Homo sapiens: one gene and its partners. The protein of the gene in region 3 interacts with the protein of the main gene of each other region in a pairwise test. Each region holds a gene or a part of one and is shown on either strand. Other genes may lie near its edges. The genes, in order: PUS7L, SYTL4, TRIM41 and FAM9A.

The links.
Region 1: the proteins of TRIM41 (region 3) and PUS7L interact in binary tests that used the Homo sapiens proteins (3 or more experiments, as listed by UniProt).
Region 2: the proteins of TRIM41 (region 3) and SYTL4 interact in binary tests that used the Homo sapiens proteins (3 or more experiments, as listed by UniProt).
Region 4: the proteins of TRIM41 (region 3) and FAM9A interact in binary tests that used the Homo sapiens proteins (3 or more experiments, as listed by UniProt).

What each region holds. Positions count from the first base shown.
Region 1 is NC_000012.12:43,755,777-43,762,629, forward strand, and holds the start of PUS7L (pseudouridylate synthase PUS7L), read right to left. Parts: upstream 3,015-6,853; 5' UTR 2,974-3,014; coding exon of another isoform or gene 2,954-2,973; exon of another isoform or gene 2,928-2,953; coding exon of another isoform or gene 2,917-2,927; exon of another isoform or gene 2,510-2,916; intron 1-2,509. UniProt on the Homo sapiens protein: Pseudouridine synthase that catalyzes pseudouridylation of mRNAs.
Region 2 is NC_000023.11:100,701,108-100,708,134, forward strand, and holds part of SYTL4 (synaptotagmin-like protein 4), read right to left. Parts: intron 3,780-7,027; 5' UTR 3,704-3,779; intron 2,079-3,703; 5' UTR 1,986-2,078; intron 1,001-1,985; 5' UTR 931-1,000; coding exon 821-930; intron 567-820; coding exon 351-566; intron 223-350; coding exon 113-222; intron 1-112. UniProt on the Homo sapiens protein: Modulates exocytosis of dense-core granules and secretion of hormones in the pancreas and the pituitary. Interacts with vesicles containing negatively charged phospholipids in a Ca(2+)-independent manner.
Region 3 is NC_000005.10:181,226,281-181,233,307, forward strand, and holds part of TRIM41 (E3 ubiquitin-protein ligase TRIM41), read left to right. Parts: intron 1-4,463; coding exon 4,464-4,559; intron 4,560-6,378; coding exon 6,379-6,609; intron 6,610-7,027.
Region 4 is NC_000023.11:8,791,357-8,798,383, reverse strand, and holds part of FAM9A (protein FAM9A), read left to right. Parts: coding exon 1-25; intron 26-202; coding exon 203-234; intron 235-2,001; coding exon 2,002-2,116; intron 2,117-2,963; coding exon 2,964-3,306; intron 3,307-4,627; coding exon 4,628-4,726; intron 4,727-7,004; coding exon 7,005-7,027.

The DNA of each region.
Region 1 (6,853 bases), on a different chromosome or scaffold from region 3:
GATTTGATTATATTTCAAGGTAGGATTAAGTCAGTCCTGGGCCTTCTCTAATGCCCCCATTAGGACAAATAGAAGCTTTCAAGGTTGAGCCAGAGGAAAGTTCTAACTATATCATTGGCATCAGACAGAAGAAACCCTTACAGAGCTTCCTGGAAACACTATGCAAGAGAATAGTACTCTGATCTCTCACTTTTCACACAAACCCATGGCTACCATACCATATGGAGCTGCAGGAAAGATAAATTGCCCAGGGGCCCCATACTAGTGAGTTCTGTGTTTCCCCCACATTCTCCAAGTAACTTATCATCATCTGGACCATCATCTCATACCTATAATGTATTCTACTAATCTGAACCAATTTAGCAAATCACACCTTCTCAATCCTTTCCATCATGCCATATAGAAATCACTACAAATTCTCCATATCCTAATTTCCTAAGGAATATATAAGATATACTTACTTTCCTTAATTACTTAATTTCCTGTACAGTTCCCTCACTTTCTTGCCCTAATTGAAATCTGGCTATTTCTTCAGGCTGCTTCTTCTTCAGTCCTCTCAAGTAAAGGCTATTTTTTCTTTCCCACCCATCTACCTTAGGACCTGGAGGCTGTAAATATTGGTCTATGTTTGTCACTGTTCGTTGCAAGCCATTTCTTCCTCTACTACCTCCAAAAACCCCAATTCTTTTGAAGAGCCTGCCATTGGGCTTTACCATCTGCTGTCATCCTCTCTCGGATCCCCAGACAACTCTGCTTCATTCACTGATCTCTGGCTCACTACCTTCTTATCCAACATGATTTTTATGATCATCTATATGGATCATCCATTCAATGTCTTGGACCCTCAAGTCCTCAATCTCAACCTCAACCTCACACCTCTACTTCATCTTGGTCATCCACTGTCACGGTCATAACTTTGACTTTCTCATCTCCAAAAACTGCATTAACCTTAAGCATCTGATTCTTATGACTCCCAATGTCCTTTATCACACCAACTTTAATACTTCCATTCCAAAAACTTTTAGATATTGTGAAGGTCCCTAACTCCTGCTTCTATAACTAGCCCACAAACCAGCCAGAATGGTCTTAAAAGGTAAATTAAATCATATCACAATCCAGTTTAAAACCCTCTAGTCACATTTGCAATAAAATCCAAATTACTCACCCTGGCTTCCAAGGACATCTAAGATTAGGGACCCTGCTTATTCTCCAAACTCATTTGTACCTTTACCCCATTACCCACTATACTCCAGCTACTCTGGCCTTCTTCAATAGTTTTGTGCTAACTGTTCCTGTTGTTTAAATTGTTCCCTCCCCAATCATATAGCTGCATCTTTTAGGATTCATTTCCTCAGAGAAGTTTTTCCTGACCAATAATCTACAGGAACCTGCAAGTGATTCTCTTTTTTTTTGAGACGAAGTCTCACTCTGTCGTCCAGGCTGGAGTGCAGTGGCATGATCTCGGCTCACTGCAACCTCCGCCTCCCGAGTTCGAGCGATTCTCCTACTTCAGCCTCCCGAGTAGCTGGGACCACAGGGGCGCGCCACCACGCCCGGCTAATTCTTGTATTTTTTTAGTAGAGATGGGGTTTCACCATATTGGCCAGGGTGGTCTTGAACTCCTGACCTCGTGATCCACCCGCCTCGGCCTCCCAAAGTGCTGGGGTTACAGGCGTGAGCCACCGTGCCCAGCAAGTGATTCTCTTTCACAAAACCCTATTTAATTTTCTGCATAGCAGTTCTAGGTAAAGTTTTTCTTTATTATTTATTGTATATCTCCTCCAAAGAGAATGTTAGTTCCACGTGAGGAGTAACCTTGTCTGCCTTATTTACTACTGATGATCACACATTTTGAACAGTGTCAAGCACATGGTAGGTCTGCAATAAATACTATTGTTAAATAAATGAAATAACTAGTACAAAATAAGAGCTGTAGGAATGAAGTGGAAGATAATTAGAAGAGGCATAATGCAAGAAGTGGCCATCTAAGTCCTCCATAGTTCAAGAGATAGAAATGAGGCAGAGACCTCACAAGTAATGTACAAACAAAACATGCAATGTGTGCAAGAAAAACAAGCAGTCCAGATACAGAGCAGTGGGGATGGGAATGCAGGGAGACTACAGTGCTGGAAAATGTAGCTGAGTTAGTACCAGATTATGGAAGATGTTGAATGCCCTGACAAGGACTTAGAATCTATTGGGTGGTCAATGGATGGCTACTGTTAGTGTTTGAGTAGAAAAGTGACACAATTCCAAAACATGCTTTTGGAATTGTAAGATGATTCTGATGGAAATGAGCAAGATGTATCCGATGGAGTAACAGTTAGAGGAGTTCAAAAACAAAACAGCATGGTCAAGAACATAGCTGTAGGGATTGGCCCTGAAAGAATAATGATCTTTTCTTTCTCCCAGAAAAAAGGAGGAAGACAGACATTCTAAGCAAGTGAAACAGGTAGGGAAACTTGGGGAGAATGTAATTCCAGCATCCTGGTAGAAGAGTGGAACTGACCTGGAGGACAGCAAAGGAGCCCACGTGGCGTTAAGCCTGAAGGTGCAGTATTCCCATTCAACAGAGACTGCTGCTGACAGTGGGCGGGGGAGTAGTTTGCTTGGCCCGTGGTTGAGGAATTCGTTGGCGGAGGAGGGATCCTGAGAAGGTACTAGAAATACTGAACCCAGTCCTGCAGAAGCTACTTAACTTCACAGAAAACTAGGGCGTCGTTGCCCTCCAGCACGTCCAAAGGTGTCCCCGACAAGGCCAGCAGCTCTACCTGTTTCTTCTCCCTCCTCTTACTCTGCCTGTCCAAAGGCACGACACTAGTCCACGTCACCTTTCTTTGGGCGCAAAGGGTATGGATCCTCAATGCCAACCTCGTCACCCCCCCCCCCCACACACACACACACACACACACATACAAGCCCACCATCGCGCAAGAAACTCGACCCCGTCTACCTCGGTTCAGTGGAAGGCATTCATTTGCACAACGCTGTGCGCATGCCCGGAAGCCTTAAGTGTTTCAGCCTCCGACAGGGGCGTAATTAAAGGGGCAGGCGCCCACGTAAAGACGCGCCCTACGCAATACGTGGAGTTTCTCACTTTGTGGAGCCGCCTGGAGGCGCCAAGATGAAGCCCATCGGGGAAGTGGGGCGGGGCCAACCCGGCAGGCCCCGCCCCTTCGCGGCGCTTCCTAGTTCGGCTGGTTCTTCTGTCGCCGGCTTCAGCAGCCCGCGCCCGGGCAGGTAAGGCATTCCCCGCCTTAATGCCTCGGTCAAACGTCGTCCGAGGTCCGCTTCCAGGCCTCGGCACCTCTGCCCCAGGGTTGCTGGGGTCGGCTGCGGAACGGAAATCTCTTTATCATCCGTGAGAAAAGTTAGAGAGGAAGTGGGTTCCTTTGACAGAGCTTACTCCAGAAGAAAGACTTGGGTAGGTCCCCGGTAATCAAGAAGTTCGTCGGCCCTGAGGAAGAGCCTGAGGCTTGGAGGGACGTCACCCAGCTGTTCTGGGGCGCAGTCGGACCTCAAGTTTCTCACCTCTCAGGCCCTGGATTCCGTGAACCCGACTGCGAAATGAAGTCTCTTTTCCCCAGAACCAGGAAGTCAGGCCAGCACCTGACAGATGCCTGTGGCGCCAGCAGCTCGCTGAGCCTCCACACGATTGTAATTCGCTTGTTTCTCCGGCCTCCAAGCTTCCAGGGAATTAGAAAGTGGAGGCGGCTTATGGGATCAGATGAGTACATTCGCAGATGGGGGAAAAAAGTGTACCTGTCAGCTTGGAAGCCAGAGGGAGACAAAGGGATAAAAGCAAACCCTGTCCAGGTGCGGTGGCTCATGCTTGTAATCCCAGCACTTTGGGAGGCCCAGGCGGGCGGATCGCTTGAGGTCAGGAGTTCGAGACCAGCCTGGCCAACATGGTGAAACCCCTGTCTCTACTAAGATACAAAATTTAGCTGGCATAGTGGCGGGCGCCCGTAATGCCAGCTACTCCGGGGGCTGAGGCAGGAGAATCGCTTGAACCCAGGAGGCAGAGGTTGCAGTGAGCCGAGATCGTGCCACTACACTCCAGCCTGGGCAACAGAGGGAGACTCCGTCTCAAAAGAAAAAAAAAAAAAAAAAAGCAAACCCTGAGAAAGCGAGAAAGCACTTTGAGCATTTAGAATGGGAACAAACGGCGCTATTAGTGCTTCAAAAACGTAACTGCCCAAGGCCCCTGGTAAGCAGAGGATACTAAAATCTGCCTTTTCCCTTTCTTGGAGTGGTCCTTGAAGAGGGCTATCGGGAAGTTCAAATTTCTTCTGTTTTCCTGCAGAGCGTTCATTTGAAGTTTGCTTTCTACCTCTCCAAACTGAGCTTCTGATATTCCAGGCCAAACTTGCTCCTTCCTCAGCCTTCTCTATCTCAGTAAATATCGGTAAACTTGGTTATGCTGTCTTCTCACTCTCCACATCAGCCCATAGCTTTCTATTGGCTCCACCTCAGAATCCTAGGACTTCTGCACTTGCTCTGCTACGACCCTGGTCCCAGCCTGCAGCACGTCCCACCTGGCTTATTGGTAGGCTCTCCTAAATGCTTCTTTCTTGCTTCTCTGTCCTTACTCCAACATCCTTTATTCCCAGCAGCCCCAGTATCCTTCTAAGACATGAGTACAGAGCATGTCTCTTTTCTCAAAACTTCCAGCATCTACATCTCACCCAGAGGATAAACAAAGTCAATACAAAAACTCTAAGGCCCTTGAAGACCTGGCCCCTTTACCTTTCTGACCTCATCTGCTACTTGCCTGTTCCCTCCTCTGCAGTCTCACCATGTCCTTGCTGTTGCCCAGTGGGCCCAGTTCCAACCTTTGCATTTACATTTCGTTTTGTCCACAAACTTTTCCCACAGATAGTCCAGTGGCTGGCTTTCTCCTTCTTTTTGACCTTTAATCAAATGGCACCTTCTTATTGAGGCTTCCTGTGACTACCATATTTATAATTACAACCTTTTCTCTATTTCGTTTTGTTCTTTCATTTCACTTGGCACCATCTAACATACTATAGAGTTTATTTATTTGCTTATTGCCTTCCTTCCTCCATTAGAATATAAACTCCATGAATTCAGGTTTTGGTTTTGTTTTGTTTTTTTTCTCTAATTTTCCTAATGCTTCATCTCCAGGGGCCTGGAGCAGTATCTAGCACAAAGTAGACACTCAGTAAATATTTGGTGAGTCAATGGTATTATATTTTGTTTTTTAAATATATGCAAAGCATTTTCAATTACTTACTGTTGTGTTGGATCAATGTTCAAGAAAGATATGTTAAGTTTAATTTATGGTACACCAGCACATATCCCAGTTTGTAATAGGCAGCCCTATCTAATTTAATAGCTCTGGAAGCCCTCACCAGCTTTTGTTCATAATGATGATGTTAAAGTATCTAAAAATAAAGATTAATGGTTATACAGCATATTTTGCTAAGAATATATGGAAGTAAATAGTGTATTTTAGAAAGGATATAAATACATTAAAATTACCATGGTTGATCAAATAAGACAGCCACCATCTCAAAAGCTTAGCTATTTTCTCAGACTTGTTATTTGTACGCTTTCAGTAGATCCTCACTACTGTTCTGGAAATTGAACCTAAATACAGTCTGCACATATCTTTAAAAATAATGTGATATAAGAATAATTTCTGCCAGGAAATAATAATTGCTCCTTTTTTTTTTTGACCACCTATTATTATGTGACAAGATTTGGCCCTTTGCATGTGTTGATTTTAATTCTTACAGCAATTCTTAGGTATTACTATCTCTGTTTTTCAGATAAAGAAAAGCAAGGTGCAGAGAAATGTATTTACTAGCTCTGGTCACAGTTGGCTTTGGTTAGAACTTAGGCCTGTGCAACCTCAAAGTTCATCTTCCCTCCACCCCTGCACAATCTTTTCCTCTGATCAAAGTGCTAATGAAGCAGTCTTAAAACTTTATTAACACATTTGACAAGAATCTTTTGCCCTCCTGTTTTGGGCACAGTACTTTGGGAAGGCATTGGATTCCATAAGCAGGTGCTTATTTTAATATATTTCTCAATCACCACCCCACCTTTTACACTTGTCTGAATTGTCTTACTTGAAAATATGAATGGGTTTTCTTTACTATGAGAGTTAGTGGTATGAGGAAACAGTCATGAAGGTATTTACTTATTTGTAAGCAACATATCCTGTTCCACCTGTGTTAATCCTAAGTGTACTAAAGTAAATCTTGAAGAATTTGAAAGAGATGACACTTTTTAAGTTTTTTTTTGCCCAGTCTGTTTTCATTATTGAAAATTCAGAAAAGCAAAATGAAAACAAAACTATCATAAAAGTCATCACCAAGGGATAACCACGTTAATATTTTGGCTTATGTTCTTGTAAGTATGTGGTTGGGAGTGGTATATGAATATACATTTAAAGTAAAATTTTAATTTCTGGGATTTTGAACTTCTGGGCACATGTGTGGAGGAGTTGCAGAAGGCCTTCTTTTTCCTAGTATCCCTACACTTATCACCTCTGCTGGAAGCCTGGGTGCAGGAGAGCTACCAAATTTATCCCTGGCCTTTAGATAGTCTGGGTTTTTTCCTCAATTCCTTGTATTTTGCTCTAATTTATAAGACTACTAAGCAGTTCTATCTTGTCTAGCTTTGTCAATCATGTTGTACCTTACAGTAGAGAGAAATCTTAGTAAGGAAAAATAACTTGAAGAGAGCAACTGCAGAGTCTATAGGCAACCTAGATACAATTTCTTAATTAAAGTTAAAAAGTCATCAGCCTTTCATTCAACACAAATGTTGTGAGTCGTTGCTGAGGTGAATTTGGTTGGGTCCTAGCTCAGGAGAGCACCCA
Region 2 (7,027 bases), on a different chromosome or scaffold from region 3:
CAATACAATCTTCTATTCTCCACTAACTGGCTGAGCCCATGGAGTTAAGATGCTACCAGTCAGAATACACTAGGATTCCATACCAAGAACCATCTCTAGACAGGTCCAGTACCTGCAGGTTTGTGGCGCAGGGACATCCTGATTATCTCACTACCTGTGCGGTAAGCAAAGCGATTCACTTTCTGGTCATAAAACCAGTCCCCAGTTGCTTTCTTCAACTCTCTGGGAAGAAATAAAAGAAAATGACAGATGGATAAAGAATGGTTCTTGTCTAATAAAGGCTGAGGAAAGAAATTCTCACCACGGCCAAGGCCTCGCCCCCTCTCTACTCAGCCATAGGTGACACTCACATTTCCTTGGCGCACACCTTGCACCTCCAGGTACCATTGCTTTCCTGTATGCGGCAGTCCCGACACACCAGGTGATTACAACCCCGACAAGTATTGGTTTTGGGACTCAAACGGCCCAGGCTCTCCTGGCACCGGGCACAGGTCCGATCACTGTAGTGTTGGCTGCCCCTCTTGGCCCCTTTCCTTTTTATCTCCAGTAACTCATTCTTTAGTCGCCTGCCAAGACCCAAAACAGAAGCGTAAGTGGATTCAGGATATGCATAGATTGGATGGAGAGGGGTTGAGAGGTAAAGACAGTAAGACTATTTGGTTCTGTGGAAGCAACAAACTCAGAGCCCAGCGTGACCCAATAAGTAGTGGTAAACATCACATATACAAATTCCTATGAAAGTCAGGTGGGAGACATAAGGAAAAGCCCAGACATCATTGGTCAAAGGCCTGGGACCCCATGCGTTTTGGGGAACTCTTACCTAATCCTTTTCTCATCTGCTTTCCGGACCTCTTCATCTCGCTGTAGAACACTGAGAATCAAATCCTTTTCCTCCTCAGACAGAAAAGAAAGGTCCAGTAACTCCGACATGATTTACTCAACTTTTTCTTCTACTCTTCTTTCTTCAAAACAACCAGACAAGGAGAGCTACCAGAGTTGCCTGAAATGACAAAAGAACTAATTTCACACAGATGATTTACTCAAGAATAGGCCCACAGCCCTAAACCCTTTCAATAGGTTCCTTTCCCCTTGAGCCAAGCTAAAGAGACAAAGTAGAAGTATCTGACCTATTTAGTCTTCCTACTCCCATCCGAAACATGCCCTGAAAATGAAGAGTCCTTGATTTTTCAGAAAGAAAAAGTTATTCGTGACTCTGGGAAAAGGATTGGTTATTCAGTATATGCATCTTAGTCTGGAAAGAACATAGAACAGCTGAGTCAATCTCCCCCTCCACCAAGTGAGTCCTCAATCATCCAATTTTTAATACTTTAAATGTTCTCAAATCTCAAGCCTATTAACCCAAATAACCAGGCAGCTGGTCTCTGCAGTGAAGGAGAAAAGCACATGAAGGCTCCTGCCAGTTTAAGCCCAGTTGTCTATTCCTAACCAGCTTCCATTCTCCCAGGAGTCAGTCAGCTTTCTGCTATACTTCAAAACTTCCACCCCCTACTCTATCTCTCAAAGTTCTTATCATACTAGCACTCTAGCACTACCTCCAGGATATCTTTCCCAAATTCATGAACACTTGTTGAGCACTACGCTGACAGGCATTGTGTAAAGTGCTGGGGATACAAAGATGAGTAAGGCACAGTTCCTACCCTTATGAAAATCACAGAGTAGCAGGGGAGACAGACACACATAAATACAGTACAACGCATTAAGTGCTATCAGAGGGATTATAAGGGACTATAAATTAAGTGCTATGAGAACTTAGGGAAGAAAGCAACTCATTCTATCTTGCATAGAGAGAGGAAAGAGAGCAGTATACATGGGAAATTTCACAGAAGAGGTGGATTTTGCCTTATCAGAGGACAAATTTCCTGGTAGGGAAGAATGGTAGGAAAGATAGTTTGGGACCAGATTACATAACTCTTAAAAACTTTTTTAAAATTTTAAGAATTTTGGCTCAGCATGGAGGCTCTCACCTGTAATCCCAGCACTTTGGGAGGCTGAGGCAGGAGGATCTCTTGAGCCTAGGAGTTCAAGACCAGCCTGGGCAACACAGGGCGACTCAGTCTCTACAAAAAGAAAAATCAAAACTTAGCTAGCCATGATGGTACACGGCTGCATTCCCAGCTACTCGGGAGGCTGAAGTGGGAGGATTGTTTGAGCCTGTGAGGTTGAGGCTACAGTGAGCTGAGATCACGCCATCACATGTGGCCCACTCTAGCCTGGGCAACAAAGCAAGATCCTGTCTGGAAAAAATTTTTTTTAATTTTAAAATTTACTGCATAGACAATAGAAATCCACCAAACATCTCTGATGTTGCTTTTTGATGCTGGGAAATCACATGATGAAATTCACTTTACAAAGACATATTATAGCTATATCGCTCTAGTTATAATATGAAAGACTGATTTAGAGGACAAATCAGAGGACAATTTGGTAGTACATACATTTAAAATAGGCATATACTTAACCAAGCAATATGACTTCTAAGAATTTACCTAATAGAAATATTCATACAAATGCACAAGCAAGAGTATATGCACAAGACTATTACTGCAACATTATTTGTAAGAACAGAAACAGTTATTTAACATAGGAATCATTAAACAAAATAATATGTCCCCATAATGGAACATTATGTCGCCATTAAAAATGTGGTAGATACACACGTACTGACATAAAAATATGGCCATGAGTGAAAAAGTAGTTGTAGGACAATAAAAAATGATCTTTTATAAAGAATTTATCTAAATATTTGTATATGCAAAGAGAAAGGTCTAGAACAAAAGCCACTATCATTGGTTTCCCTTGGGGAGTAGAATTGGGAAGGGGCAACTTTCACTTTTTACTTCACATAGTTCTAATTTGTTTTTACATATATCTTCCATTTATATCTCAAAAAAGAAAACAATACAAATGAGGCAGAGATATTATTACAATACTGCAGCAAAAGACAATCTAGATTTACTAACTGTGCCTCTAAACAATTAGACCAGTCATTTTATTTTTCATTTCATTTTATTTTTCATTTTTAGAGACAGAGTTTCACTATGTTGCCCAGCCTGGACTCAAATTCCTGGGCTCAAGTGATCTTCCTGCCTCAGCCTCCCAAGTAGCTGGAACTATAGACAGAGCCACCGTGCCCAGCAGAAGTCATTTTATTTCTGACTCTTTGGTTTCTCATCTACAAAACGACCCACCTCAAACGTTGTTTAAAAAATTAAATAATGTGTGTTAAAGGGCCAATCACAATGTTTGGAGTACAAATACTTGCTGAATCTTCTAAAATGATAAAGGCCTGAGCCAGGCAGCAAGAAAAAACAGAATAGGTTTGAGAAGTAGAATTGACAGAATAGGGAGACTGACTGAGCAGAGAGGATGAAGAAGGTGAAGTCAAAGATGCCTAGTTCACAGTCAAGATTAAACAACTGACTGGCTAGTGACAGCCCTCATAGCAATAGAAGATGTAAGGAAAGAAACAGGTTTGGAAGTAAGGCAAAAAGTTTTGTTTTAACCCTATTAAGTTAGTGTTGCATACTTGATATCCAGGTAACTGGGCCCAGGAAATAGTTGGAGACACAGGGCTGGACCTCAGGAAGAAAAAATGTATCTGATAATATACACTTGGTAGTCATGGGAGTCAAAGAGCCCAAGGTAGACAGAGAGTGAAAAAGGAAATGAGAATCACACTTACCTTCTCTCCTCTCCTTTGAAACTAGACAACACGCCTCTTTCACTTTATTTTTTCTTTTTCTTTTTTTACTAGTTCCCTACAAAACAGTGGAGAACATAAACAACACGGCAAAGCTATACAGGTTCCTGAAACCTCAATATTTCCTCAACTTGTATATTTCCTGGTCTTTATTGAACTATAAGATGTTAAGCCTCTTGCACACACCCTTTCTTAGACAGTCTTGAGGAAGTGTTCTTAGTTCTTATCCCCAAGGAGAATATATACCCTCCATGAAAACAAGGACTTTTTCAATCTTCTCCTCTGTATCTGCCCTAGCACTTAATGCAATATCTGGTACGCAATTTTGCATATGCTGCCAATATTGCAATCACTGTCATTGTCACCCCAACAGTATCTTTTATTGAGAATTGACTATACGCCAAACAAGTACCTAACATATATTAACTAATTTAATCCTTGCCACAATACCAAGAATGAGTGACTATTATTACCCCCATTGTATAGATTAGGATTCAGGAGAGGTTAGGCTAACTTGCCCAAGAATAAAGAGCAAGTAAGTGAAATTGCAGGGATTCAAGCCCAGGCAATCTGATACCAGAGTTGGTGCTCTACAGGCTCAGTCTAGGCAGAATTATAACCAAAGCAACTATAAAGTACTAAACAGACAAATCAAAAGCATTGTGGAAATGAATTCCCATATGTGTGATTACGGCTGAAACACTGCGCAAAAAAATCAGTGGCTCCTGGATAAAAGAGGTATTATCAGTTACCTGTCAGCTAAAAAGCAAGGATAGCACAGGCACACTAGAAATGAGAACCATATCAGATTTAAAAACTGGTGCTTGTGGAGAGGCAGCAGAATATTGTGATGAGAAAGGCACGTTGGCATAATAATGAGACCAAGTAATATCAAAATCCAGGGAAGTAAGAAGATCCTTGAGGAAATAAAGATAGTATCTTAAGAAAATGGAACTACCAATATTGTACATCTGCCCTTTCTTTTTCATTTATGGACCTGACCAACCAGAACTGCCCCCTCTGAAATCTTAAATTCAAGAATTCCCACTTTCCAACCACAGCTCACTCCTGCTCTATCTGTTCTTCAACTTTATCAAGACCACAGTCTCTTGAGCCCCACATTGTCTCTTGGTCCACTTGCCTTCTGCTGATCTATCTTCCCCCCATACCCATCCTGGACTCCAGATGGCTCAACATTTGAACCACTCTCACCAGTACCTTCCATATCCATATACCTTCATCCCTCTGCCACAACTGCCCATGAAAATCCCAAACCTGTGCTAATGCTCTAGCCTGCCTTGTCTGCTCCTATACCCAGGTTCTACATAATTCCTGGTCTACAACCTCAGCTGAACCCTCATTGTCACCCATAAATTCTGTTACTTATGCTTGTTCAATTCCTTTACCTAGTCCCTTTGGGTTCTATTCAAGCCTTCATTCATCTCACACTCCCACTTCCCTTCCCTCCAGTCCCATCAGACATGCTTGTCTCATACTTGTAAAAAGGTTTTTGTAAGACCATCAGACATGGACTCTATCAGCTCCCTGCCTCCTCTTCCCCATCACTTGCCAATCTGACTCCTTTCAGAAAAGCCATATCCCACCCCAAGCCCCACCTTCCACCATAGGTTGCTGTTGTTTCCAACACTAACCCTGTTAACAGCCAGCTTGTTTGCAATGGGATCTTGCAGAATCAGTAATGAGGAGCAGAAAACAAATTAAGAACAAAAATTAAAAGGCAAGAAGACAAAGGTAAGTGCAGAAAAAACTGAGACAAAGAGAAAACAAAAGGTAAAATGGTAAAAACAAGTTCAAGTATATCAATGAATATGAAACTCATATATGAGCAAAATTCACCCTTTGAAATACAGGAATTAACAGACTGGATAAAAGGAAAAAATCCAGTTATGTGCCATTTATGAGAGACACATCTAAAACATAAATTGAAGGGAAAATTGAAAGTAAAAAGATAGGAAAAGATATACCAGGTAAATGCTAGCCAAAAGAAAGCTGAGGTAGCTATATTAATATCTAAAAGTAAAAAAGACAATAAAAGCTTTATAAAGGTTAGATAAGATCACTACATAGAGATAATAAATATGCACCCACTAATAAAACATCACTAAATATACAAAGGAACAAAAGAGAGAAATTGAAAAATCAACCATCAAAATGAGAGGTTAACATATACTTCTTTGTTGTTGCAATTATGAATGGTACAAGCAGATACAAACTAGTAAATATATAGACAAGTTGAACAACAAAATGAGCTTGATTTAATAGGAATACAAAAAAAGTCTATATCCAACTGGAGAATTACATTATTTTCAAGCACATATAGAATATTTACTCCCAAAACTGACCATGTACTAGGCTGTAATGCAAGTCTGCATAATTTTTTTAAAAAATCCTTCCCATACAGACCAGTCTCTGACTTCGAGGAAATTAAATTAAATAAGAAATCAATTTAAAATAAGGTAATTTCTTATCACAATACTTTTTTTTAAAATTTATAAAGACACTTCTAAATAACCCACATGTCAAAGAAGAGATCATAATGGTACTAAATCTATCCTTAACATCTTAGAGGAAAATACCTGCCTCCTACCTCACTACCATCACTACTCCCCATACTATGGCATAGAATGTTCTCTAGAAATTCAAAAAGGAAAATATGAAAGAAAAATACAGCTTTCATATGCAATAAACCAAGTGATATATTTTTATGGTAAATAGTACATCATATTTTGAAAACTAGAACTCAGGAAAATAATGGAGGCACAAATACAGTTATAATAAGAAAACCAGATAGATGTGAAGTTAGAAAAGCTATGACTAATCGGATACTCCCAATTTATGGCTACTAGGGTTTAATAGAGAAACCAAAGCCCAAGAAAACTTAAGACCCTTCATTACATTCAGTCCCAGGTGTACAGTCAAAAAGGCAAGATTATCTATTGAGAAGACCACGGCTCAGGTAACATGAGTGTCAGAATCTGAGCTCAGATGGACAACTTGTTCTGTGTTAGTCCTGAGGTGTCAAGACTCAGATGAAGTATCTTAATATAGCATCCTTGTGGGACCCATGCCCATAAAAATATATTTTAGAAAAGGTGGTTTGTATCATTCTCAGCAAACTATCACAAGAACAGAAAACCAAACACCGCATGTTCTCTCATAAGCGGGAGTTGAACAACGAGAACACATGGACACAGGGAGGGGAACATCATACACCGGGGCCTGTCGGGGGTGGGGGGCTAGGGGAGGGATAGCATTAGGAGAAATACCTAATGTAGATGACGGGTT
Region 3 (7,027 bases):
TTTTAGTAGAGATGGGGTTTCACCGTGTTGGCCAGGCTGTTCTGAAATTCCTGACCTCAGGTGATCCGCCTGTTTTGGCCTCCCAAAGTGCTGGGATTACAGACATGAGCCACTGTGCCTGGCTACACAAAGATTGTTAAACCTGCCTGATTGTTGGAATTACTAGGGGAGGTTTTCAAAAATACAGTGGATCCTACCACTAGAGTTTCTGAATCAGTGAGTAGGAGAATATCTTTAAAAAGCCCAGTCTAGCATGGGGATCACTGCATTGGTAACATTGCCTAGCTGTTAGTCCCTGCATTTTTAGCAGAGATTGTGAGGTCCTGTTGTCCTTTCCATCTCCTCAGTTCCTAGTTAACCATACCCATCATATCATGTGTGGTCACTTTGTGAACAGGAACCCAGGCCAAACTATCCATGGGCATTCCACCCTTTCTCTTTCACCTCCCCCTGTAGGACTGCTCCAAGGAGCTTCTGAAACTGGATTTTAATTTGCATTAGCCAAATTTGTTCAATGCCAGCTGCCTGAAATCCCGTATTAGGTCCTGAAGTAGGTGAGGAATTAAAAAAAGTCATAATCTCTTTTCTTTTCCCCCCTTTTTTTTTTTTTGAGACAGAATTTCACTCTTGTTGCCCAGGCTGGAGTGCAATGGCACAATCTTGGCTCACCGCAACCTCTGCCTCGGATTCAAGCGATTCTCCTGCCTCAGCCTCCCGAGTAGCTGGGATTACAGGCATGTGCCACCACACCTGGCTAATTTTTTGTATTTTTAGTAGAGACGGGATTTCTCCATGTTGGTCAGACTGATCTCGAACGCCTGACCTCAGGTGATCCGCCCAACTTGGCCTCCCAAAGTGCTAGGATTGCAGGCGTGAACCACTGCGCCTGGCCATACTCTCTTTTCTTGATCTGTTTACTGCGCTCTGCAGTTTGGGAGGCCATATACACATATTTAATCTGACATTAAGTGATGAGTAAATGTAAATACATAGTTTTATTGTATAGGACTAATTTGAGTGATTCCCTTTCTGACTTAATAGGCTATTTTACAAGTGGGTCATTTATTTTTTTATTTTTATTTTTTTTGAGATGGAGTCTCGCTCTGTCGCCCAGGCTGGAGTCCAGTGGCGTGTTCTCGGCTCACTGCAAGCTCCGCATCCCAGGTTCACGCCATTCTCCTGCCTCAGCCTCCCAGGTAGCTGGGACTACAGGCGACTGCCACCACGCCTGGCTAATTTTTTTGTATTTTTAGTAGAGACAGGATTTCACCATGTTAGCCAGGATGGTATCGATCTCCTGACCTTCTGATTTGCCCGTCTCGGCCTCCCAAAGTGCTGGGATTACAGGCGTGAGCACCGCGCCCAGCCACAAGTGGGTCATTTATTCTTTTCAGATATGTACATGCAGTAACCAGTAGCTTGGCAAAATGTTTTGTAAAAATTTTTTTTGTTGAATAGGTAATAACACACAAATGATATGTAAATATAGTTCCTGAACAGTTACATGTTTGTTTTGTTTTTTTTGAGACAGGGTCTCACTCTGGCCAGGCTAGAATGCAGTAGCATGATCATAGCTCACTGCAGCCTTGACCTTCTGGGTTCAGGTGATCCTGAGTAGTAGCTGGGACTGGAGGTGTGTGCCATCATGCCCAGCTAATTTTTTTTTTTTTTTTTTCGTGGAGACAGGGTCTTGCTGTGTTGCTCAGGCTGGTCTTGAACCACTGGCCTCAAGCAATCTTCCCATTTTGGCCCCTCAAAGTGCTGGGATTACTGTGTCTGCCCGACAGTTAAATGTTTTGAAAGTTGGCCGGGCATGGTGGCGGGTGCCTGTAGTCCCAGCTACTCGGGAGGCTGAGGCAGGAGAATGGCGTGAACCCGGGGGCGGTGGAGCTTGCAGTGAGCTGAGATCACGCCACTGCACTCCAGCCTGGACAACAGAGCGAGACTCTGTCTCAAAAAAAAAAAGAAAAAATGTTTTGAGAATTTCTCTTATAACTGGCTGGCTGTGGTGGCTCACGCCTGTAATCCCAGCACTTTGGGAGGCTGAGGCAGGTGGATCACTTGAAGTCAGGAGTTCAAGACCAGCCTGGCCAACATGGTGAAATTCCGTCTCTACTAAAAATACAAAATTAGCCAGCATGATGGCATGTGCCTGTAATCCCAGCTACTCGGGAGGCTGGGGCAAGAGAATCGCTTGAACCTGGGAGGCAGAGGTTGCAGTGAGCCAAGATTGTGCTACTGCATTCCAGCCTGGGCAACACAGCGAGACTCCCATCTCAAAAAAAAAAAAAAAAAAAAAAAGGAAATATATCTTAAATAGAACTCTGTTTGAATTTGTGCTTATTAATTTTTGTTTTTGTCAGCAATTTAGGGTCCCGGCACGGTGGCTCACACCTGTAGTCCCAGCACTTTGGGAGGCAGAGGTGGGCAGATCACTTGAGGGCAGGAGTTAAGACCAGCCTGGCCAACATGGTGAAACCCTGTCTCTACTAAAAATACAAAAATTAGCCAGGTGTGGTGGTGGGCACCTTTAATCTCAGCTACTCGGGAGGCTGAGGCAGGAGAATTGCTTGAACCCAGGAGTTGGATGTTGCAGCGAGCCGAGATGGCACTGCTGCACTCCATTCTAGGCGACAGAGCAAGACTCTGTCTCAAAAAAAAAAAAAAAAAAAAAAAAACAGTAAATGGTAAATTTAAGCGTTATAAATTCTGAATTAATGGAGAAATTATTGACTAGAAAAGTAGAAAGTTATATCAGAAGGCCAAATTTTGTGTAGTTCATGCTATTGTCACGAGTTGACTATAATTCCATTATTACTGTAATTTTGTCTACAACCACTTATCCTGTGCAGCAACTGCTGTTTGCACTCTGGCTTGGTAAACTCTTTAGTTCAGGGGTCATTATCAGGATGTCACTGGCAGCTTAAGGTATAGGGAACAAATATTAGATAACATTTACTGATCTTCTGCTACATGCCAGGCACTGCAGTAAGTGTGCTATCCATGAGGTCCATTCTCTTCTTATTTGAAGCTGAGGAAACTGAAAGCATGGCTTGCCTGAGGTCACTTCACTTCCCTCTGGTCCTGACTGGAGTCAGGCTGGAGCTCTCCTACCCTATATTCTCTCTCAAAGAAAAGGAGACAGGCTAGTAGAAGACATAGAAAAGGTAAGAGCAAATAGGTAGGGCTTATTCCACTCATTCTGGGCTAACAGCCCTTTAAAGAAAAGTATTTGGCTACAAATTGTAGAAACACAGAGCTCGTGTGCCTATTGGCTATAACAGTTACAACCTTTGGAAGAGGGGTTTCGGTGTCCTTTGCCATTTAGCAAGTAATTGAGCAGGAGAGAAAGCAGATGAGCAGAAAGAAGCAAAGAAGTTGAAATAAGTAGAGTGTGGGCAGGGACTCCGCAGTGTCCTGGAGGAGGCACACCTGTCATTGGTGCCCTGGGAACTCATGTATTAGATATTTCTTGGGATCACAGAGGATGTTGGGGGTGGGGAGGATCAGGGCCATTTTCAGGGAGCTGTTTTAAAGGAAGAATACCTTGGGCCAAGTGGAGAAAGGCACTCCCAGACAGAGGGAACAGCATGGAATTATACTCAGGAAATGACAAGTAATTTTATGTGGTCAAACGTGTTAAGAGTCTGTGTGGAAGGCGTTGAGTGTAGAGGTGAGGCTGGAAGTGTGGGGTCAATGTTTTGGAAGTGGTGGTGACCCATGGAAAGGTTTTAGCATAGGAAAAAAATCATCAGAAAAGTATTTAGAGAGAAGAGTTCTGGGGAAGATCGCCTGTGAAGGGGAAGGGGACCAAAGGTGAGGGCACCCCTGGAAAGACTCTGGTGCGGGGCTCAAGCCACTTCCCCTCAGCTGTGAGCGTGGGAGCTCTCTAGTCTTGAGGCTCCTACCTTTAGAGAATACACACAGGGCCGGCCGGGCGCGGTGGCTCACGCCTATAATCTCAGTACTTTGGGAGGCTGAGGTGGACGGATCACGAGGTCAGGAGATTGAGACCATCCTGGGTAGCATGGCGAGGTGAAACCACGTCTCTACTAAAAATAAAAAAATTAGCCAGGCGTGGTGGTGGGCACCTGTAGTACCAGCTACTGGGAAGGCTGAGGCAGGAGAATCGCTTGAATCCGGGAGGTGGAGGTTCCAGTGAGCCAAGATCGTGCCACTGCACTCCAGCCTGAGCGACAGAGCGAGACTCTGTCTCAAAAAAAAAAAAAAAAAAAAAAAAAAAAAATACACACAGGGCTTCTGCAGACGTGCACAGAGGGATTGGAGGCTTTTGTCATCATCTGAAAGAAGAAAGTGGAGGAAGGTATAATACTCACTTGACACCCATTTTCGGGGGTAGGGATCAGGCTTTGACCCATCTTGCTATAGGGAGGATTGCAGAGGTAGGCTCTGAAGGGCAGGTGCCTCTCCCAGCCCCCACTTTTCTTTTTCTGTTTCCTCAGGCCAAACTGCAGGGGCACGTGGAACCACTGAGGAAGCACCTGGAGGCAGTGCAGAAGATGAAAGCCAAGGAGGAGAGGCGAGTGACAGAACTGAAGGTGGGTGAATGTTCTCGACGGGGCTGATGGGCAGTACAGTCGAGGCAAGGAAGGTAGGGCTTCCCACTCTCACAGGGAGTGACTTGGTCCCCTGAGGAGGGGACAGCTAAGGCCTGGGAGAGGGGTAGATGCTTTCCCTAGGTGCTGAGGAGAGCGGGGCCTTAGAGAATCAGGAGGCATGTTCATTCCTGGTTCCAAAATGGAGTGGAAACTGAGGCCTGGATTGGAGGGCCTAGGTGCCTGGCCCAAGGCTGCAGAACAGGCTTTCTACCCGACACCAGAGCCTGAAGGGGGCAAAGCAAAACCCACATAGCAGCCATCAGAGAAGCTGCCGGCCCCAGGATCCATGCAGGCACTGGGCAGAGCAGCCCTAAGCATGAGGCGGACACTGTCCTGGGACACTTGCTGTGTCCTGAGAGGGGGCCAGTGTGTTTAAGCTGGGGCAGGATTTAGTGTATGTTAGCACTGCAGAGACCTAATATTTCCTAGTCTAGTGTTTTCTCAGCACACCCCGACCCCCCCGCTTTTTTTGTTGTTTTTTTCCATTATTGCTCGCCCTTCTCCAAGGAGTCTTTTAAGATACATTTTCCATCCCCACCTCCCGCCTGTTTTCATAACCCCAGCAGGTCCTGCTGGGATGGGCTGGCACTGTGAGCTTCATAGACCAAGCCAGGACCTCCCCTTCTGTCCCTCTTCCCTCCTCCCTTCCCAGCCAGTGCCTGGGCCTTGCCACTACCCAGGGCCCATGCTCACTGCCACCTGAACGTTAGGGACTCTGCTGCTGGCGACTGCTAGGCACTGAATGGTAGGATCTGTCTGGGAGTAGGAAGTCATCGTGCTTCTGGCCAGCTGCCCAAGTTGATACTTTTGGGCTCTCCTGGGTATAGAGGTAACAGGAGCTGTGTGCCCCTGGCATAGAGTGAAGCTGACTGTGGCGGCTGTTCCCTCACGCGTCTGGTCAGTTGGGACCCTCCTCTGGCCTGCTGCTCACAGCGTCTGCAGCCGATGGTAGCTGTGTGAAAAGTGTGCCTACCACCCAGGAAGGGCCATCCCTGGCAAATAGGGTGGGACTGGGCAGGAGTTTTTTCTGTTACAGGATATTAAGTCCCTACATAATATCCTTGATTTTTGCCTCTTAGCCCACAAAGCATAAAAATACTTACTATCTGGACCTTCACAGAAAAAGTTTTTCCGAGTTCTGATCTGGGGCTTTTGGGTGACTTTCTTAAGGTCACTGTGTTTAATGGCGTCGGGACCCTAACTTCATGTTTTGATTCCTGAATTCTTTTATTTATTCATTTCAAAAATTTTTACCAGGTGCCTACTCTGATTGGTACTATGTCAGGGTCCGAGGACCCTGGCAAACAAAGACATTCCTAGTCCCTGTCAGTGGGAGCTCATGGTACAGTGGGGGAAAGGATGTTAACAGTTACGTCATTTAAACACAACGTTTCAATATTATATGTGCCACAGAGAGATACAGTGATATTTGTGGGGATGGTCCCGATTTAGATCTGGAGAGGAGGGAAGGCTTGTCTTGGAATATTTAAGGTTGGACCTGAAGGATGAGTCAACTTAGGTAGAGTCAGGTGGAGAGGAGTGTTCCAGGCAGAGGTTAGTGAGTTTGAGACCACTGTGCTGGGAGCAAGGGGGTGGTATCTGGTAAGGCTGGTAGGGGATGAGCCTCTTTCCGGGACTATCTTGGACCTGGGGAGTGTAGGGCTCCTTTGCCTTGCATTGAGAAGTAGTAGTTGCAAAACTGGAGGTTATCTTCGTACGTGTTGAGGTGGTGTCTGCCATCCCCTTTGCACCATTCCAGAGCCAGATGAAGTCAGAGCTGGCAGCGGTGGCCTCGGAGTTTGGGCGACTGACACGGTTTCTGGCTGAAGAGCAGGCAGGGCTGGAACGGCGTCTCAGAGAGATGCATGAAGCCCAGCTGGGGCGTGCGGGAGCCGCGGCTAGTCGCCTTGCAGAACAGGCCGCCCAGCTCAGCCGCCTGCTGGCAGAGGCCCAGGAGCGGAGCCAGCAGGGGGGTCTCCGGCTGCTCCAGGTGAGCAATGTCCCCTCCCTGTTCCCCCAGCATTCTGTGTTGGCTGTCAGGCAGTGCTTACCAAACGCCTGTCCAGAGCTGCCTCTTTTCTCCCTGGGAGGAACCCACAGTGATTGAACCTGAAGACCAAAAACATGTTTTAAAGCTGGAAACAGAGTTAATGTCGAATGTGGTATGTGTGGCGATTATACCCAGTGAAAAGCATGAAGATTCGGTTGTAGGAGAGGTTTAAATGACAGTTGAGGAAAGTCTTTTTGACAGTGACATCCTGAAAAAGGTGAGCAAGTCGTATTGTGGAAATGACAGTATCCCTGGGCTCACAGCAGGATGAGGCGAGTTAGGTATGGCGAGGCATGGGGTGGTTGAAATGGATGTGTGTTCATTGAGGGCCGTGAGGGTGCTGCTTCTCCCTTCCTGC
Region 4 (7,027 bases), on a different chromosome or scaffold from region 3:
TTGCTGAAAAAGATGAACACACGGGGTAAAGTGTTTAAGTCACTTTTGCCTGTCGGATAGGGTCTTTTAGGAAAAGTCAGCTTTGGTTCATGTCATCACTATTCTATTCTATGCGGAACATTTCACATAAGACATATCTTCCCAACAAACATGGCATTTTGTGTAGCATTATGATAAAATTTTGATGTAACTTTTTTTACAGGATTCATACCATGAAGCTAGAACATATTGCAGGTATGTTTTAGGAGCTATTCGTAGTCTTTGAAAATTATTTTCAACCATACAACTGTTATAGTAGGTTATATGAATTAGTGGACGACGAGACTGTCTTAACATGCCTTCTTCTCATATATAGCATTTAACATATGTATTTAATGTAATGCGTTTAATAAATTTTCATACTTACCTTTTGGATTGTTGATGTGGAATGTGAGAATGCTTCTAACAATGGTGAAGTGAGAGGGATGGCTTTTCTTTCATACACATGGAAATTTAATTATTTGGGGGATATTAGAGGACACTGGAGGAGAAACAGCTCTATTGGTTCCTTTTAGTGTACACAGATTAAGTATATATATCAGGTTTTTTTATCTTTTATTTTAGGTTTGAGGGTACATGTGCAGGTTTGTTATATAGATAATTGCGTGTCACAGGGGTTTGGTATACAGATTATTTATCACCCAGGTTATAAGCATAGCACCTGATGGGTGGTTTTCATCCTCACCCTCCTCCTACCCTCCAACCTCAAGTAGGCCCAGGTGTCTTTTGTTCCCCTCTTCCTGTCCGTATGTACTCAAGAGTTTTTAATATGAGTTTTTATGTTCCTAATTTAGCTATTCTATTGTCACAGCTTTCTGATTTTGTTTTCTTTAAAGTACAAGAGAAAATTGAATTATCTAAAATGATGATATTCTATTATTATTCCAGTAATAAACTGTGTACTAGAAAAGGAAAGACAAGTTTTCTACCCAGTGAGAAACATGTAATTGGATCCAAAAACTCATAAATTTTGTATTGCCATGTGAACTGTTAGTTGCACTGACTGTTATAGGACCATATTTTCAAAAAAAAATTGAGAAAATTTCTGTAGAGACGGCGGAGACAATACTCTTATTTTTAAAACGCTCAATTCAGTTTTCAGCTCTTCTCTAGCGATAATTCATACAAGCAGTATATTTGGAAAGCTTTGCTCTGCTTGGTGAGTAAGTGCTGGTTTTGTGAGCTACCTAACTGAGCATTATAGATGGAGAATGTAAAAAATATTTGTATTATGGTGCAGATCTTTTATGATTGCTGAAAACTATTTTTAGCAATTGATGGTAGATCTCTGATGTGAAACCATGTTTAGGAAAGCATTCCTTGCAGTAGGACAGTTTTCTGAAACACAGCACTGTGGATAAAAATGTCATATAAAAAGCTCCAAGAAAATATTTCAAAAGTGTTTTTGAATGTATTTCTTTACTTAAGCCTAAATTTTTATACCCATGGACGATGCTTCTTTTATTAAAATACAGTTAATAGCATCAATCACCAGATTGCTTAAAAAATGCTCTTCTTATTGTGTACTAAGTTATTTCTACCCTTTTGATGGTCTTATTAAATAAGATACTTTTCTGTATGTTTTACATAATGAATTGTGACAGTATTTCATGGAAACATGTCCTTTGAATTACAGGACATTTTATAAATGTAGAAATTAGAGTCTGTGTTTGTAACGCTTTCTGCACATTTAAAAAATCGAAAATTACTTGCTTTTTTTCATCATCCATAAATTAAGTGATTTGCAGTTATACCAATTGGAATTAGAGTACTAATATTAATACGTAAAAGGTTTTACAGAAAACAAGTGAGTAAATCTTGCTTTTTGAAATGATCTTTGTATTTTACAATGTAAATGTCCTTCCGATATTGCTGAACCATCATATCTCACGTTGATTTCAATATATGCGAAGAAACCACTTTTCAACATTAACTTTTAATGCATTTTCATTTACTATCTAGCTGACATTAAAAAGGGCCTTGCTGCAAAAAGAGAAATGATAAAAATAGATAAAGCAGCTTACAGGAAAACCAAGAACACAATTGAACGTGCTTTGAAAAAAAAACAACTAAAAAGGTATGATTGTTGGCTTTTTTGCATAATGATATTTATATCATTTCTTTGTATTTGTTGGTGCAAATAATTTCAAAAACTGTCCTGTACATATTGGCGTCTCTAGGGAGCAACATATTTTACTTGATTGTTCCCTAAGCAGGTAAGTTTCTTTTGTTTTATAACCTCAGTTTAACAGAATTGAGGCATATTATCTAGAAAGCCAATGAAGATGACCTCTTTTTGCCTTCCAGATAAAAATAGTCTTCCTGTAAAATTAATTTTTATCCATTTCTAGAAATATGGCAGCTGCATATAAGATAAATGTCTTCAACGTTTAGTCTGTAGATCCTTAACAATATTAAGTTATGTGGAAAGGGACAACCTTATGTTGTAAATATGTTATCTATTTTAGTTAAATTGTTTTCACTATTCCTTTTAGAAAATCATTGTTGTGCCAAAGTGGAGAAAGAGTTAAGTGAAGTATTTCTTTTGGGAAATCTTACAGGATGAATGGCTATGATATTCTTGAACCTACTTATGAGAACCCATATGTTATTTAGTTTGAGGAAATGAAAAGTAAACTGCTGTTAGAGAAAATTATTGTTTCTGGGAAATTTATAGTGCAGTAAACTCTCCTTTGTTTTCAGCACATAAAGAATGTAAGATAGCTGCTCTAGTAGTCAGTTAGGAAGGGATCCTTTCAGAATGACAGTAACTCATTTCACCTTTTCCCAAAAAGAAGATTTCAGCTGCTATTACTCCCTTGCTACTTTATAGTATAAATTATGTGAAGTCAGTTTTGGTTTGAATAGGATTAATTTTTCATCTCTCTATGACATATGACCGTATTACTTATTATGTGTTACAGGCAGAAACGTGATTATAGACATACTCGGAAGTTGCTGAATGTCCTTAAAGAATACATCGCAGAGAAGCAGAAAGATGATGAAGCAGAAGAAGCAGAAGCCGCAGCAGCAGCAGCAGAAGCCGCAGCAGCAGCAGAAGCCGCAGCAGCAGCAGCAGAAGTAATAGTAGTAGAAGACGAAGAGGAGGAAGAGAAGGAGGAGGAGGAGGAGAAAGAAGAGGAGGAAGAAGAAGGAGAAGAAGAAGGAGGAGGAGAAGAAGGAGAAGAAGGAGGAGGAGGAGGAGAAGGAGAAGAAACAGAAGAAGAGGAAGAGGAAGAAGAAGAAGAGGAAGAGGAAGAACAAATTGTTGGTATCAGGCTTAGCTTTATGATTAACCTATTGTATCAATGTCTCAGGTAGTAATAGTTCATGCAGAAATCCAGCAAAGAAGGAAGAGAGCATGAGCCCAGAGAGGGGGGCCCATAAGTGGACTCATGTACTAGGGGAATATAATTGCCACGCAGCATTAGGGGTCCAACTGAGGTCAGCATCATAGCGATAAAGAAGTTAAAGTGAGCCCGGTTGGCATATTTGTGCAAAAGCAGCTGTAGGGTTGGAATTTCCTGGGTTGGGGTGTAGCTGCGCACGTTGATAGAAGGAGAGTTGGGCAGGGCATAGATGCAGGGATGGGGATATGATGACTGGCTGTGGAATTTCAGCTGGGACTGAGTTACCTGAGCACATGGGGGTGGGCAATGGGCAGTGAAAAGTGTTCCATTCAGTGGGTGTCGGGTCTCAACAGACTCCTGAGCTGTAGTACTGAAGTGAGTGACCTACAGTGGCAGGAAGGTAGTGGCTGTATGTTGGGAAGATGGAGAAACAGCTGAGTGCAGTGGTCAAGGGCTGGGACACTGCAGCCCCACTGCTTGTAATTCAACTCCAGCTTGACGATTGCTAGCTCGGGAACCATGGGCAAATTATTTATCTCTGTGCCGAAATTTCCTTATCTGCAAAAGGAGACACGGTAAGAGAACTTATGTCAGAGTTATTTGGAGGATTGAAAGGTTCCTGTGTAATGGGTTTATTTAAATTTTTCAGGATGTGATCTGACCCATGATTGCTCTTTATCATTGCTATTATTAATATTATGTAGATGTTGCAGTCATTGGGAATGATAAAATCTAGGGGATGACTGTATAAGTGAGTGCCACGTAGAGGAGAGGAGAACACTGTTGTTGGAGATTAGGTCAAGGTGCAGAAAGGCAATCATTATTGGAAGGTTCATCCGTGTGCATACTGAAATGACCAAGATTTATTACCTGTTTAAAATCTTAGTAAGAAAGAATGTTTCTTAGTTAATTTCTGTATATATCTTACCCATCTGTGGTCAACAAATTATAGGAAGGGTCGTCAAATACTCTACATTCAAAATCAAGAATTAAGACATATGTGTTGATTATGTATGTAGAAGAAAGAAAATTCCTTAATCACTGATGAAAAAGGTTATTATATCATTTTAGCATATGGGTGGTGAACACAGTTGTTTAAAATTGGTCATAAACATTGTTTAAAAGAAAGTGTTAAGAAGTATAGATTTAAAGAGTATTCCTATAAAGCTAATGCAGAATTATGTTTTGTAAGTATTAAAAATTACCCAATTTTCATCACTATTTTTTTGTGCTTCTAGAAAGCATTTCAAGAAAAACAGAAGAGGTGGCAACAACCTACAGGTGTTAGGAGCTGGAGGCTGAGAGAGATGAAGCCGCTACTTGAGCAATTACTAAAGGTCTGTTCTATTTGGTAACATAATACATTATAAAATACAACACGTGCATAACAGAAGAAAGTCTGTTTGTTTCCGAATGTATGGAAAGACATTTTGGTTATGCATTTTAAATTACTTACCATTTTCACTTTGAATGTATTGTTCCAAATTTAACATAACTGGTAAATGTATTTTTAGGATTCGTGAATAGTTTTGTGGGAGTTATTTAGAACAGGAAAAGGTAAATTGGAAATTTTACCTGGAAATATACATCTTGTGTATATTGTTAACGCATTGACACATTTATGCCGGAGGCTGCACATTTTTTGTGTGTGAAGAAACAGACCTTGGCTATGTTCTTGAGCGGTAGGAGATACATGATTCCCACAAGCTTAGCGTTCCAATAATGGAACACTAGGCATAAATGGGTTTTAATGAAGATTTTATTTTCAGTTTTCAGGACATCAATGACACATCTATGGTGGAAGGCAGGAAGACCATAAATCCTTTCTGGATGTCTTTTTTACTTGTGTTGTTTCAAGAGTTTTAGTTAAATAGGAAGTAGGCAAGTGTAACTACTGAGTGTCTCTTTTATTTCCTGCTGTAATACAGGAGTGTTTTATGGCATATTCACTTTCAAAATTATCAGCGACTAGTAATGGTTTTACATGACAATTTGTAGTCATAAGAGATGGTTCAGATGTATAACAGAATGGGAAAGCCAGCAAATTATTAACACGTTGTGAATTGTGAATTATCTGCTGTCGTATAGCACATTAGCAAATTGTCATCAATGACCTCTTCTTCATGTAGATGTACATTATTTAGGTAACAATGGAATTCCCTTCTGGGAGGTAAGGTATTCTTTTTAATAACCTTGTGAAAAGACATGTTCATATGTCACTCCTCTACACTAACTGAGATGTGTTAAATAAACTGAGAAAAGAGTTTGAAAATAAAATTTTCAAGCAACTTGAGAATGATCTATACACAAAACAGTTATTTAAATAGAAGTCACAAGTAGAGAAAATGTTGCTATAATGTTCACCAGAAACCATTTATTAATTGGTATGAACATGAGACTAGAAGTTTTCCTGTCAATGTTAATGCTACATGTTACCACTTAGGGTAGGAACTTTGCTATCATCTTGGACTCTTCTAAGTCCCTTATCCTTCCCATGCAGTTATCATGAGGCAAGTTTTACCTCTGTAATGGCCCTTAAATTTCTTTTTTTAAAATTCCCACCGCAGCTGCCCTAGTTCAAGACCTCATTCTTCCTTGCTTGTACTATTAAACTCTTTTCTGAGTTCTCTCTTCTCTTCTGAGCCATCCTTCATTGATCGGCAATATTATCTTCCTAAAACCCTCCCCTTCCTAAAATGCTTCCTAGCCCTTCCCTCTTCCCAGCCTGTCAGTGATGCCCCGTCTCAGTTCTTAGATATTCAGAGACTCTCCCCTTTACATGACCCCCTCTTAGGCTTGCCGCCCTCTGTCTTTGCTCCTGCCTATCCAGGTTGACAGCTTTCCCTGAAGGAATTCACTGTTACTCTTATGCTTTTCTCATGCTCTTCCCTCACAATGCTTTAAAAAAATTTTTTTTTGACTAAGACCAATTTAAACCTTTTGCCAACTAAGTCAACATACGTCTCCATTTTTGGCTACATGTCTGAGTGAGTTGCCCTTCCATAGCAGTTATACAATTTTTGTATTAATTTTTTTTATTTGTGCATTTGCTCATGTCACAGGATTATGGAAGAGATTGTGCTTACATTTTTTACATCTTCCTTAGCATTAACATACACCATTTTCAGGAGTAGGAACTGTTGAACTATTTGTTGAGGGAATAGTATATATTTCAAACATAGTTACATTTTTCTCTAACTTGATGAGGTCATATCACCAACCATTTTATCCCTTCAATGGAAACCACTTTCCGTAGACTATTGCTGATAATACATGGGTCACTACCTGCTGAAAAAATATATTTCATGGTAAGCCTGCCTGACTTTTTCTGTCTTTGCTCCATCTTGACCTTAAGATGCTCATCAACCCATTTTATTCAAGCAAAGTACATGACAATTGGACCTGCTAAAATAATATTTCACTGAAATCTGGCATTAAAAAATTTAAGTGGGTATTTGGAGCTCCATGTATTGGTTACAGTTTTTTTCAAATTGAAATAAATAACCAGCATCCTTTGAATATTAAAAGCTGTTTCCTTTTGACATCTGATTAACCCTGTTTAAAACGTGAGATGTAAAGTGGTGGTTTGTCAGTGAACTAGACTTTTTCTTTTAGGCTGCCAAGGACACTAAAGACAA